Homo sapiens: one gene and its partners. The protein of the gene in region 2 purifies or fractionates together with the protein of the main gene of each other region. This does not show direct contact. Each region holds a gene or a part of one and is shown on either strand. Other genes may lie near its edges.

Region 1 (3,500 bases), on a different chromosome or scaffold from region 2:
ATGTGGGGACTCATGGAATGTTTCGTGTTGAAAAAATATCCGCAGGCAAAGTGCTGGGGAGAAATCCGATCGCCTTTTCCCTACCAGGAAATACACAAAGCAGGCAGAGGGCGCAACAGAAACATGAACAGTGCAGCGCGTGTGGGGACGCCCGCCAGTCAGGCCCGGCCAGTCCCTGCTCTGCCGCTCAGGCTGGGGCACCGGGACAAGTGGCTTCACTGTTCATAGCATCGGGTTACCTCTGTGAAATGGGGACATTGACTGTGTCCACTCTGTGAGGGGCGTCTGGAAAATCCAGTGAGGCAAGGAAAGGCCCAGCCGAAATGGATTCCTGGTGCATGGGATCGTGGCTGCCGGCAGATGGTGTTGCTGATTTCTTTCCTCACGGACTTGCTCGGAAGTGCTGGCTCCTGTTGGCTGGGCTCCCGAAACGCCTGGTTGTCAGTGTCAGAGCAGCTTCGGCCGTGGCCCTGACATGAAAGAGGGGCGCTGGTGTCGACCTCCTGGCCCCCATGGGGTTCTAACCACCACGCAGTGTTCTGGGTTTAAGTATATTCAGATTGTGGATTGAAATACACAAGCATTGATCAACAGTTTGAGTTTCAGGCTTTGCACACCTGCTCTCCTTCCCCAGGAAATGCGGTCCGACACTGCAGCGGGGAGAAGGGCTGGCTGCCCCCAGAGCTCTTTAACTGTACCACCATCTCCTTCGTGGACCTCAGGGCCATGGTAGGGGCGCCTCGGGGATGTGTGTTCAGCAGGGGCACGTGTGTGTTCGTGTATGCGTGAGAGAGTTTGTGTGGGCCGAGGCTCCTGGGCTGGGGAGTGTTGGGGCGGCTGGGATGGCGCAGGGACAGCCCCACGGGCCCGCAGCCTGGAGCCAGCAGGTTCCTGTGGACTTCGGGGTGTTGGCACCTGAGCCAGGCACCCCCACGTGGACTTCTCTCCCCCAGAGGACCCAGCTCTGTGTCTTTGGTTCTGAAAACACGGGGTCCCTGCATTTGACTCCATTTGCCCTCTGATCCTGCCCTATTTCATGGCTTTTGTTCCCACGTCTCCCACTCGCTATCTTTCTCTGAGCCCTCTTTGGCCCACCAGACCCTCGTTTCCATGGTCTAGCTGTCAGCAGTGCTCATTTTTGGGCTTTTTGTTTTTTGTTTCTTTTTTTGGAGATGGAGTCTCACTCTATCTCCTAAGCTAGAGGACAGTGGCACGGTCTCAGCTTGCTGCAACCTCTGCTTCCCGGATTCAAGCGATTCTGCCTCAGCCTCCCTGGTAGTTGGGACTTACAGGTGCCCACCACCACACCCTGCTAATTTTTTTATTTTTAAAATAGAGACATAGAGTAGAGTATTTTCAAAATAGAGAGTAGAGACGGGTTTTCACCATATTGGACAGGCTGGTCTTGAATTCCTGACCTCAAATGATCTACCCGCCTTGGCCTCCCAAAGTGCTGGGATTACAGGCGTGAGCCACCATGCCCAGCCAGGCTTTTGGATTTTTTAAAGTTCCTTTCTGACAAGGAAACTTGCACCAGACAGTAGTGAGTTGCTGAGTAACAGCAGGGACTGAAAGCGGCCGAAGTGGGTTTGCACACATCACGACTGCCTCCCTGTTCCAGAATGAGAAGCTGAGCCGCAATGAGACGCAGGTGGACGGCGCCAGGGCCCTGCAGCTGGTGAGGGCGCTGCGCAGTGCTACACAGCACACGGGCACGCTCTTTGGCAATGACGTGCGCACGGCCTACCAGCTGCTGGGCCACGTCCTTCAGCACGAGAGCTGGCAGCAGGGCTTCGACCTGGCAGCCACGCAGGACGCCGACTTTCACGAGGTAGGCGGGTGGCCGCCACCCTGGCTCGGGGACACTCGGGGACACTCGGATGCCCGTGGGTGGGTGCTGTGGGGCTGGGCGTCTACCTCAGTTCGTGGAAGACGGTTGTGTCCAGGATCCCCATCCTCATTTCTCAAATGTGAGCCCTGGCGGGTGCAGTGCCTGACTAAACTGACGACGAGCGTTAGGGAGTGTTCTGGAAGGAAACATGCAGGTCACAGCCTTGCTGGTGATCCTGGTAGTGCCTGTAGTGTGATCTAAGTGGCTTCTAAGGGATTCTAAGTGGCCCACCTGCATCAGCCCCTCTCCCTTCCATGCAGCCTGTGATGGAGTATCGTCCACCCATTTGACAGGTAAGGAAACAGAGGCACAGAGAGCTAAGGCGTTTGCCCAAAGGCACAGCTTGTAAGGGGCAGGGCCCGGCAGTGGGCCCCCATGTCCACTCCCACCCGCAGCTCTGAGGTCCTGCTTTCAGAGGGCCACACCTCCGCCTCAACCCTCTGGCTGTGTGTGTGGAAGTTGTCATCCCCTGAGCAGTATCGTTTTAGGGTGAATGCAGAGGGGACTCACGCAGCCTGATATTTGGAAACTGCTTTCGGGGGCTCCAGAAGTTTCGTTGTGGCTCTGCTGCAGGCCTCTTCGTCCAGACAGGACCCCCAGAGGAGTGCCTGTCCACACAGAGCCCATGGGGGACACCCTGTCCCTCCCACCCATCCCCACGGAGCCCTCAGGGACCTCCTCATCCACAAAGGGCCTCCAGTCCATGCAGGGCCCCCATGGAACCTTCTAGTCTGCATAAGGCCGCCAGAGACCAGGCAGGGTCCCCTTGCTGGGATTTGAGTCCCAGCCTGAGAGTTGGGCCAGTGGCGTTTGTTCTCCATGCGTGACTCCACAAACAAGTTTCCTTTCTGGTTTCTTTTTCTTTATTTCTTTTTTTTTTTAAGATGGGGTCTTGCTCTGTTGTCCAGGCTGGAGTGCAGTGGTGCGATCTTGGCTCACTGCAACCTCCACCTCCCGGGTTCAAGCAATTCTCCTGCCTCAGCCTCCCAAGTAGCTGGGATTACAGGCGCCCGCCACCACGCCCGGCTAATTTTTGTATTTTTGGTAGAGACAGGGTTTCACCATGTTGGCCAGGCTGGTCTCGAACTCCTGACCTCAGGTGATCCACCCGCTTCAGCCACCCAAAGTGTTGGGATTACAGGCATGAGCAACCGTGCTCAGCCCTGGTTTCTGTCTTGGGTGTGGTCCCCAAGCCCCTGAGCACAGCCTCATGCCTCCACCCAGTCTTTCACACAGACCCTGGGGTGCACAGAGGCTGAGGGTCACCCTCGGAGGAGCTGTCCACATGTCCACGGCGGCCTCAGTGTGGGACCTCTGCGCAGCCCAGGTTGTGGTGGTTCCATCACTGCTTGACGTGGTTGGTGGAGTTCAGGAGGAGTTCTGATGTAATAACCAGGGGCATCGCCACATGTCTTCCCTGCCTTAGCGTCTTGGGGTATACGTGGAAAAACCCCTGGCAGGGCTCACTCTGCCAGAGTCCCAGCCTCTGACATTTGAATCACCCACAGTCTCTCTGGCTTATTTGATGGGGTTCAGGATTTATGAAAATCACACATTAAAAAATGACTTCTGGCCGGGCGCGGTCGCTCACGCCTGTAATCCCAGCACT
Region 2 (3,937 bases):
AACCAGAGCATGTGGAAATTAGCAACGAAATGGATTTTAATCTATCTGATGTGCATCCACTCTTTTCACTAAGAGCAAGGATGCCTGTGGAATTTATACGATTCATCCAGACTCTCACAAATTATGGTAGAGCTGGTACTAGAATCTGCTTCAGGGCTCAGCATACTTCACACAAACTGGTATTACAAATGCATTATGTGTTTGTTAAAAGCAGAAATTAGAAAAGAATCTGAAAATTGTTAGCTGTTGGTTATACACCAAACTAAGAAAATGCTGTCACGTTTGATGATTCAATATGGCTTTGACCCAATTTGTTTCTGTATCTGATAGTGTTTAAGTCTTGCAATCTGGCATTTGGGTCTGAACGACGTTTCAAAGAACATTTGCATTTGCACTGTGTTTTTAAAGTAGCACTAATGTTATCCCTCTATTATCAAAAGTATAATACTGTGTAAATGAGAAAGCACATAACTTTGCATCTTGCTGGATAACATACCTGCTTCTGGCATTTTACAGTGTTCCTCTTTAGGTATTATCTTCACCTTGACGCCGGAACCCAAATCCAGATTTATCCCCGGTGTTTGACTGATGCAGCTCTTGCAGATCACCTTCCATGTCGCGCACTTCAAAATACAAAGGTTATCGATTTAAGCATTCCAACATGAAATATAAATAAGGAAATGATAATATTCTCTTCCTTCGCGTTACGAAATAAAGCCTGAGCCAGGCGTAGTGGTTCATGCCTGTAATCTCAGCACTTTGGGAGGCCGAGGTCGCTTGAACCCAAGAGCTGGAGGTGGCAGTGAGCCAAGATCATGCCACAACAATCCACACTGCGTGACAGATGAGCCTCTGCCACATAATAAAAAAATGTACATTTCTATACACCAAATTAAATGGTTTCAAGTGATTTAGTAAGGACTGTATTTTCAAGCATACAAAATCCATCTCGAAGAACAAGAGAAGATTCATTATATCCAGGGACAGCATGAAGCTGCAAACTATACTCTCCCTTTTCCAGCCAACTTTGAGCAAATGTTTGGTATCTTTTCCTAATGTTCTCTTTGCTCCTGTTACTGCTCATGGCATAGGCCACAATGCACACATAGACCTTCTCCCGCCCCATAGACATACTTTCCCTTCCCAGCACCTGGGATCTCAGCTGTATCCTGATCTTCTTCTGTCTGCTGCCCAGGTGTAGGATCCCGACTTTCAGCTGCTGGTTCTTCTTTTTGGGGCTCTCCATTACTGGGCTCCTGGGACTGGCTGTGTGGTTCTGTGTTTGTGTGTGTCTAGATAAAAAGTTTTGTTATTAATACATGTCAATAATATAAATATACAGAATACACAGGTATGTCTTATTATAAGTATGTCTAGAGACATTTCTCCAACACTACCCCGTATACCTAATCTTCATAACACTATTCTTCCCTCAGAGAGGTTACTCAAAGACAGATATCCTCAGGGACTTTGGAAGCCGTTTTAATCAATGTTGGGATGAATGTGTGTAATCTGTTCTGAATAAGCATGAGGAGGAAGTTATGGACAAAATCTGGGCACACACGATCATCCACCCACACAAAACCCAAATATAACCCTCTGGACTAATCTTTCCTTCATGGGATGCCATGATCATTTTTTATCAGCATGGGAGACCATTATCAGTGTATCCATACTAGTCCATCAACACTATCAGAAAAATAACTTTCTGCTAAGAGAAAACATCGAATGTTAAGACATTCACAAGCAGAGGCACAATGAGCTCAGGAGGTTGTGAACTTCTTGGCATAGGCCTATATGTTGATCGTCCTCATCAACACATACTTCACTCTGCAAGCAGAATACTGCGATTGGGAAAATGCACTTGACAGGACAACTAGATTTGACCGCTTTCATGGTCAAATGTTAACTTGGACATTTTTTTTTTTTTTAATTTAGAAATACTCTGAAAGTCCCCGGGCAAGTATAAGTGTATGCACCTTTTGAATCGAATGCTTGCAAAGCCACTTAAGTAGGTCTAGCTAGCTGAGCGATGTCTTAAGGCTCCTGGCAAAAAACACAGGGCATTTCCCATGAGGTTGGTTTCACAACTGGACACTCCATCAGGGAGACAAGTAGGAAATTACAGCTACAGAACTGAAACTGCAGTGACCACCAATTTTGTCACATAATGATTTGCTAGGCCCACTTCCCCCCCACCCCAAAGTCACATTTTTAGGAACTCAGGGCCCCGCCCATTGGAATCTCCACAGTGGAGTTGAGAATTTGCTACACAGCAGTGGGCACTCCTCACAGGACCCCTATGCCAGGCACTCTACAGACCTCGGGGCTGCGGTCACTAGCCCGCAGCATGCCCCGTCTCCAGGACCCTTCCATACCGCTCATGCCGTCCCTCTCCTGGTCCCGTCTGGGGAGTCCAGAATCTTCTGTCGGGGTTCCAGGTGCTTCTGGGACTCGGATACCCCCAACAGCACCCCAGCTTCGCCTGAGCCCCTCCACTCCTCGGCCCTCCTTCCTCCCTAGTTATGGCCGTGACGAGACAAGAAGGTCCATGGGCGTGGCACCGCATGAGAGGGACGACGACTTCGAGGGCCTTCTCACTCTGAGTCACTGACCACACAACCCTCCGGAAGCCTGCTGGTTCCTCTTCACTCTCACTCACACTTCAACTCCCAGTTGGATCTGCCTGTGGACCTACCCGCCGTGTCTCAGTAGCGGAGAAAGAATCCAGACCTCAGGGACCCGAGTCGCCGGCTCACAGCTCCGCCGCGTTCCCCACACTGGCGAAGGGGCCGATGGGAAGACGCCCAGTGAACATGCGCACTGAGGTGGGCACCAAAGGAGCATGCGCAGTGAGGTTCCCTCGTGCCTTAAGGGCTGTGGTGCCCCTCCTTATCCCGCCTTGCCCTGTCCTATGCTCCTTCCCAGGTCCCCATTAACGACTTTGGAATCCCTCCTCTCTGTGTGTGGGTTCCCCCCCACCAGGACTCAAATACCTCAAATAAAGTCAGCCTTCAAAACTCACTCCATGACCGGGCGCGGTGGCTCACGCCTGTAATCCCAGCACTTTGGGGGGCGGAGGCGGGTGGATCATGTGGCCAAGAGATCGAGACCATCCTCGCCAACATGGTTAAAACCCGTCTCTACTGAAAAATACAAAAATTAGCTGGGTGTGGTTGTGCGCGCCTGTACTCCCAGCTACTCGGGAGGCTGAGGCAGGAGAATCACTTGAACCCGGGAGGCGGAGGTTACAGTGAGCCGAGATTGCGCCACTGCACTCCAGCCTGGTGACAGAGCAAGACTCCGTGAAAAAAAAAAAAAAACTCACTCCATGCTCACCTGACCCTCCTCCCCGCTATGGCCCTCCTTCGTCCCATGCCCGGGACCCCACAACAGCAAGGCCATGGCAGTATCGCTGAGTTTTAGTAGAAAGATGACGACCTCAGAGGCCATGGACCAAGTGGCACAACCCACAGGAAGCCCCCCACGCTCCCCCTCACACTCACTCACACTTCACTTTCTGGGAGGACTGATCTGCAGACCTACTGGCTAAGTCATAGTCAGCACGAAAGAAGGAAGTCACGACGTCTCCTTTCACAGTTGTGGAGGGACAGAAGTTAGAGAGCAAGGCGCATAGGCAGCAAGGAACTTTCATAGAAAGGGACATGCACATTGAGCCAGGGACTTTTCAGGGCAGGGTAGGGTTTTCCGCTGTTCCCAGACCCGCATCCCCATGGCGTTTGTAGTAGAAAAAGGGACTTGAGAGCTTTCGTCTCTCTTTGTCCAATCTCATGCATTCAGAAACGTTGGGAACAGACAGTCCCTTACTGGAGGATGTGTCTCAGGAAGACCTTTTGTGGAAGAAATAAATTATTTTCATATCTTTATTTATAAAGCCGTTTTTATTTATTTTTTTTTCCAGACAGAGTGTCACTCT
Region 3 (3,500 bases), on a different chromosome or scaffold from region 2:
CTGGGGACTGGACCCGGCAGCAGGAGCTGGCTCCAGGGCACCCTCCTCCCCAGCAGCGCGCTCAAGGACGATGCCGGAGTTCTGCATGGCCTGGTGCAGCAGGTTCTCACGGCTGCCCTCGCTGGAGCAGGGGAGCTCCTGGGAGACGGGGGGCTGCAGGGGAGGCAGAGAGAGGAGGCTGGCCAGGCAGCCTGGCATCCAGCACCCACCCCATGGGGCAGACGCACGCCAGGAGCCTTGTGCAAACCCTCAGACCCCCATGGCGCTCCCACTGGCCCTGCTCTCCCTGTGGGAAGCCCAGCCCTCGCCTGCCTGGCTCAGACCCCTGGAGCCAGTGCCCAGAACAAAGACTGGCACCGAGCAGGCAGAAGACAGAGCAGCCCTCCGGGGCCCCCCGTCGCCCCCACCTCTGGGGCCAGGGCTTTCATGCCCAGGGACAGCTCCTGCATCTGGACGTGGACTTCGTGGATGACGGTGCCCTTGGCATCTGTCACCAGGTGAATCACGGGTGAAGTCTCTATAGGCTCGCCTGTCACCGATGATGTGGCTGTCCCCAAGCCGGCAGCTCCAGCTCCAGAACCTTCAAGGTGGAGTGAGGGAGTGAAGATCCCTCACACACCCCAGTGGCGGCTGCGTCCACAGCCAGCCCCCAGGACCAGGCAGCTGCCCGCACCATGCTGACCTGCACGTGCGTCCTCTTTGCTGACAACCACGTCCTTGCTCACACTGAAGCGGATTTTCTCTGTGCAGGGGGTGAGAGACTTGAGGTGCCGGGTCAGTGCACCCGACTCCCGGAAGCTCTTTCCACACTTGGAGCACTTGTAGGGGCGCTCATCTGCAGAGAGAACCTAGTCAGCCCCGGGCAGCCCCAGCAGGCTGGCGACAAGGTGACAAGGCGAAGGCAGGCAGGGGCCCCCGCCTCATCCCCCAAAGCTGGGGAATGCGAGGCTGGGGCACCCCAGGGCCAACCATCGGGGTGCTACCGGGCTCCAGCCCGAGGTGCGGCCAGCTCACCCGTGTGCCGCCGGTGGTGCCGGATGAGTGAGCCCTTGGTGCGGAAGGAGGCCCCACAGAGCTTGCACTCGTGGTCCTTGCGGCTGCTGTGAGTGACCATGTGGGCCTTGAGGATGCTGCCCTGTGGGGGAGGGCGTGGCAGCTCAGGGCCCTCCTGGGGGAACAGGAGGGGGCCTGCCACCCACACACTGGCTCCCCGCACGCCGGCTCACCGTCTTGAAGGTCTTGTGGCACAGCGCACACACATAGCGGCCATCCTTGTTCACCAGTAGCTTCACCTGGGCCTGCTCACCCTCCCCTGCGAGCCCCAGCCCCTGCTGGCGGGGGCTGCCCGGGGCCTCGGCCATCTCACCGTCTCCCAGCTCCGCCTCAGCAGCCACGATGACCTCTTTGATGTGCCCACCACCTAGGAGAAGCATCTGGGCCTAAGCCCCAGGACCTGCCCCTGTCCAGAGACCCCAGAGACTGCTGGCTCCAGGGGAGGGGACCTGCTGCTCTGAGCCACACCCTGGACCCAACCTGCACTGAGCCCTCAACACACAGGTCCGAGCAACAGCCAAGGTCCCATTCACCTCTCCAGGTCAGAGTGAGAGGTGGAGAGACACCTCCCGACTCTGTCAGGCTGCCCAGAGATGCTCCAGGGCCCCTAAATGTGTCCACAGGGAGACCCACCATGGAGCACAGATGCCCCATCCCCAAAGCCAGGAGGACGTGCGAATCCTGGTGACAAGGTCCTTGGGTGAAGAGACAGCCGCCTGTCCTGCTCGCTGCCACTGCTCCTGCCACTGCTCCCACCAACATAGGGAGGATGTGCGTCCGGGGCCACTCTTCCATCGGAGGAGATGGGCTGGGCCACTGCAGCAGGGCAGGCAGGCCTGGCCAGAGCCCCGTCCCAAGGCAGGCTTGGCCTGGGAGAGTGAACGCTCTCCAGACACCCGGGACAGCCTGAGGCGAGGAAGCTGGGCTTTTGCACTTCTGGAGGATGCTGGGAAAAATCTGACAATGTGCAAAGCTAGGTTGTAAACACAGTTCAGGTTTTCTGCTCATAAAGATGACAAGTGGGAAACAGCTGTGAAGCCACTGCTTAGAAACCACCTCAGTCCGGCTGGCGTCTTGTTTTGACAAGCTGTTCTCTTGAAACACGACAAAAGCGTGGTGACTCAGAAACAATTAAGAGCCTCTCCTGCCCGAGCCCTTACACGCTCGATGCCCCAGGAGTGATCTTCCAAAGGACAGAGGCCTCTGATGGGGAGGACCTGGGGGAACATGGCTGCTGCGAGGCCAGAGGAGACGCGAACTTTTTCCGCGAAGCGGCAGGAGGGCCTGGAGGTGGGTTCCAACTGCCCACACAGCTGACCGCACCCCTGCACCCGCAAAGACAGGACCTGGCACGCCCCAGCCCTTGGCCACCAGCAGGCAGGACCCTCTGCCATCTCCACTAGAGGCCAACAGGAGAGCTAGCAGCCCTGGACTAAGCCCACCGGGCCTGCTGACTGGCCAAGGGCACACACAGAGTACCCAGGATGCCCGCAAAGGGGAAAATCCCAGGGGTGCCAGAGTGGCAGGGGTGCCAAGAGGGGCTGCTGAAGCACAGGGAGGGGTGCTGAGCCTAGGGCTGGAGGCTGCTAGAGTTTAGGTGGGTGGAAAGGGGCCTGGCTGGCCAGAGACCCAGCCCAGAGACCCCGCCAGAACCTAAGGAGTTCATGCTCCCAGGTGACGCCACCATCCCAGAAACCAAACGCCAGGTCAAGGCCAGAGCCCGCCCCACCTCCCACATGAACATTCCGAGCTCTGAGTGGCATTGATGAGTGTCTTGGTCGCAGGAATGCCAGGGAAAGGCAGCACGGAGGTGAGACAGGTGCCCTGGCTGCCTCCTGGAGAGCAGCCTGCTCACAGGTGCCCTTCCCAGGCCCCGGGTTGGCCTCCGCCACGGCTCCTCCACCCCCTCTTCCTGCTGCAGCCAGTCCCCAGGGCTGCCCAAGGCCAGGTTCCGCCTGGTGCCCAAACCTACTTCCTGTCCAGCTGCCCACTCCCCGCCTGCCTCAGCCCCGGTCCAGCAGGCTCCCCAGGCAGCAGCCATGCCCCGCCCCACCTCCCACAGCATCAGGTCCCTAGACAGCTCCTTCCCTCGCGTCTGCACACCTAGCCACTCGCCCCTGCCGCACCCCCAACCCCAGCAGCCCCTAGCTCCCTCAACCTGCCCAGGCCCTGGCTGCCTCTGAATGCCCCCCTGCACAAGCATCTGTCCCCGATGAGAGCCTGCCCATCCAGACCTCGCAACAGCCCCTCCCACAGCACATCAGGGAGAGAGACATCTTCACTTAAAAAGTAGCCATCAAAGAGTCCTGGCATTGCACGCTCATAAAAGCCCCATGAGGACCAGTGTAGCAATCACCACTCCCACACCAGAGGGAGCACTGGGGAGGGCAGGCCACGGCCAGCAGCAAGTCCGAGCCCAGCTAGAGAGGCGGGAGAGTCCCGTCCAC
Region 4 (3,500 bases), on a different chromosome or scaffold from region 2:
ACTAAAAATACAAAAAATTAGCCGAGTGTGGTGGCGGGCGCCTATAGTCCCAGCTACTCTGGAGGCTGAGGCAGCAGAATGGTTTGAACGCAGGAGGCGGAACTTGCGGTGAGCCGAGATTGTGCCACTGCACTCCAGCCTGGGTGGCAGAGTGAGACTCCATCTCAAAAAAAAAAAACGACCTAAAGTTAATAATAATCCCAACTATTTATCATTGTTATTTAAATAATAATGGTAAAACATTTTATCAATTAATATAGTGAAAATACAACTTATTACTTATTTATAAATTATTGCATATTATTGTCTCATTTAGTTCCTTCTGCAATCCTATGATTTGCAATTGAACAAACTGAAGCTAAGAGGGGTTAGAAAATAATACTCCTTGTAGGAGGTAAAGCCAGGATTCAAACTGAGGTCATCAGATTTCAAAGCTTGTTTTGTAAACCAGTAGATTCTACTTACAGCACTGCCAATTCTTCTCTAGGACAGTACCTTCTTTAGACTCTTTTAGATTGTACTGCTCATTTTACTAGACAGCTGAGAAGCCACTATAGCACACATTTTAATTAGTTGAGTTCTGGCTTAGAGACAGTCTCTATAATCCATCTCTCTATATATTACTATGAAGAAATTCAAAGTGAATAGCACCCTCCCAAAGTGGTGGCATACAGACTTTTGGGGGATACTTGGGAGGTATAGAGCCATGTCACAATTGACAGGAAAGGTGAAAACAATTGCAGCCTCAGTCAGACACTGGCAACTAGGGTGGCACAGAGAAATGCAAAACTGTGAAAATGAATCCTTAGCAAGTCATGTTAGTCTCTTTCTGCAGAAGACGAAAAAAGGTATGACAGGTATTTGGTATTTTAGGTATTGTGCTTATGCCATTAAAAAGTATATGAGGATCTTTGGAAAGATGGAAGAGGCAGCCTTGCTAGAGAAGTTTGCTCAATCTACGTGAAATCAGCACAAACCAATAACTAGACAACTTTGCCTGACAGATGCCTGCTTGAAAATTGGGAGACAGGAGAAAAGGAGAGAGAAAGAGGAGGTCCTTTATCTCATACAAAGATATGCCTTTGGTCTCTATGCTCATTACACTTGGCCATTTAAAATTAGTGGCTTATTCTCAATGATATTTCAAATACACTGTCTAAAAGCAATATGAAAAGTCCATGTTTTACTGCAGCATGTTTAAATAATCAAGGACAAGGTATAATGCATGTAGAATGAAGAGATGAAGGAAATGGAATGAATCAAACAGTTGAGCTTAGCTTATATAAGTGTGACAAAGTAAGGAAGTTTGGAAAGGGAAAGTTCAAAAATATTCATGTATAAAGTCAAAAGTATTATTTAAAGATCTGAGAAAATCAAGAGGCATAAAATGAATTAGGGATTTAGAGTGGCCAAATTTCGAACCTCATTTAACTTGTTATAAACCTGGTTTATGGATCATCTGCTGTTTTTTTTTTAATTTATTTTTATGGTGTGATATTTAAGAAAGTCTACCTACAGAAAAATATATATTATTTCCTACCTTTTTTTTTTCATTTGTACTCTGACCAAAGTTCACATTGTTAAGTAAGAAAACACATGTGCTTATTCTATTGTGAAATGTCTTAATCATAATTCATGTATTTCAAGGGCATTGCACCCAGGGCTTGATCAGATCTACAGATGGTTCTTGCATAGTGGGATCTGAAGGAGGCTCCACAGCTGTCTCCCACACTGGCCTACTATGGTGCCAACATTTCCACCCACCTGGCCAGAAATCACACCATTTGATTCAGTCCACTCCTTTGATTTATGTAATAAATGCATTTTCTACTATTAAAATGCACTTGCTGTGTGGGTTCAGAGAAAGGCCCTAGAATCACTACTGGCCTGCCCACATTAACATACATTGTCAAATTCACTCACTATCTTACTATGAGACAAATGTCTCCATTCTATAGCATAAAAGATACAAGAAAAATTGAATGTAAGAGAATCACAGATTATTGGACCTGGAACCGAGTAAGATTTCAGAGTTGATTTATCAATTTCCTTAGACAGTAGCCTACCCAATGCTGATGGCAAAATTGAGATGAGAAGCCAAGCAAGGTGTTTTCTATATCTGAGCTTATTAAACACTAATTATCATAAAGACTTACATAGCAAAGGCAAACTGGCTTTGCAAAGATAATTTAGAGGGGGCTTTGGAAAGATCAAGTAGGTCATGGCATGAAGGTAGGGACCAGGATAAATACAATAGACCTAAAGAAACCATTGTATACCACTCCAAGAGAAAGTCTGAAGACTACTGCGTAATTAAAATAAGAGCAAACTCTTGCACAGTCAATGCTTGCCTTGAATGAGATGGTGCTTTTAAGCCTAATGTTTGGTTTTTAACTTGAATTACCAATCCATTGCAATATGCATCAATTATTCTAACATTTTCATTGTCAAATGTTTGTATTACCTATTTCCCCCATAAACTCTATATGAATTATTACTTTATTGCTAAATGTATTTTAATGAAACAAATAACCAATTTCCTCAATCTTTGATTAGATTGATATTAAAAGATTAGCATGAAATTATCATAATGATGATAATTAAAGGCAAAGAAATATATATTAGTAATCTTTGTCACAAATAAATGTATAACTAATAAGGTTTTCTTAAAATATTTTTTAAATGGGGTAATTTCTAGTGTTACTTTCCAGGGACCTGTGGCATTCTACAGATTTGGAACTTTAAAATGGTGGATCTCATTCTACATTATTAGATTCCGGTGGTAAGAAATTATATTTATTCTTATGGTATATTCTTTTTCCTTAGCTAATAAGAGAATAAAACCTCATTCTACATTTGGCGGTAATGTGTTTTAGAATATAGCGTAAAGCTTGTTAAACAGGGAATTAATACACAGGCCCTTTGAATGAAATTGTATTCATCATACTACAGTACAGAAGGAAGATAACGCTTTTGTAAAATGTAAGTACATTTCACTTAAATTTTCTTGTTTCTGTTCCTTCTCTGCATTTGTGAAAATGTATTTTTATCATTAGCTATCCTAACTTATTCCTGGTTTGTTAGCATGACATTGGAATTTTACTTGTTATTGCACTAGAAATTATCTTCTAAACTTTACAATGAAAGTTAATCCCAAACACTTGCTGATAACTGCATTGTTTCACATAGGTTAAAATTCAAGAAAAATGTTTGAGGTAATAATAATTAGGAACTAGCACAGCATCCAAAATGGTATTTTAATGGAAAATCCAAATGAAAATCCAATACAAATCCTGATTAAAACCTAGCCAAGCAAAAAACTACAGATTACCTGGATTCCAATTAAATGTGACAAATGAATACTTGACAGGTTTCAATTCCAATTCTATTTATGTCAGAATGATCCATTAATACTGAAGATGAAATTACCAGAATTTAAGCAACACAATTGCACTTTATGGCTAGATGAGTAGTCTGAAAACACGGACCCAACAAATTTG

The links. Proteins that work in one complex are often made in the same cells at the same time.
Region 1: the proteins of XAGE1A (region 2) and CELSR1 purify together in Homo sapiens (affinity purification with mass spectrometry, with the first as the bait; one large-scale study listed by BioGRID). This does not show direct contact.
Region 3: the proteins of XAGE1A (region 2) and E4F1 purify together in Homo sapiens (affinity purification with mass spectrometry, with the first as the bait; one large-scale study listed by BioGRID). This does not show direct contact.
Region 4: the proteins of XAGE1A (region 2) and PCDH7 purify together in Homo sapiens (affinity purification with mass spectrometry, with the first as the bait; one large-scale study listed by BioGRID). This does not show direct contact.

What each region holds. Positions count from the first base shown.
Region 1 is NC_000022.11:46,387,621-46,391,120, reverse strand, and holds part of CELSR1 (cadherin EGF LAG seven-pass G-type receptor 1 isoform 1 precursor), read left to right. Parts: intron 1-45; coding exon of another isoform or gene 46-278; exon of another isoform or gene 279-593; intron 594-634; coding exon 635-729; intron 730-1,621; coding exon 1,622-1,831; intron 1,832-3,500. UniProt on the Homo sapiens protein: Receptor that may have an important role in cell/cell signaling during nervous system formation.
Region 2 is NC_000023.11:52,494,671-52,498,607, reverse strand, and holds the start of XAGE1A (X antigen family member 1), read right to left. Parts: upstream 2,801-3,937; 5' UTR 2,699-2,800; exon of another isoform or gene 2,570-2,698; coding exon of another isoform or gene 2,379-2,569; intron 1,293-2,378; coding exon of another isoform or gene 1,247-1,292; coding exon 1,151-1,246; coding exon of another isoform or gene 1,135-1,150; intron 624-1,134; coding exon 497-623; intron 1-496.
Region 3 is NC_000016.10:2,230,091-2,233,590, reverse strand, and holds part of E4F1 (transcription factor E4F1), read right to left. Parts: intron 1,421-3,500; coding exon 1,227-1,420; intron 1,136-1,226; coding exon 1,015-1,135; intron 836-1,014; coding exon 683-835; intron 581-682; coding exon 408-580; intron 154-407; coding exon 1-153. UniProt on the Homo sapiens protein: May function as a transcriptional repressor. May also function as a ubiquitin ligase mediating ubiquitination of chromatin-associated TP53. Functions in cell survival and proliferation through control of the cell cycle.
Region 4 is NC_000004.12:30,922,869-30,926,368, reverse strand, and holds part of PCDH7 (protocadherin-7 isoform d precursor), read right to left. Parts: intron 1-3,500.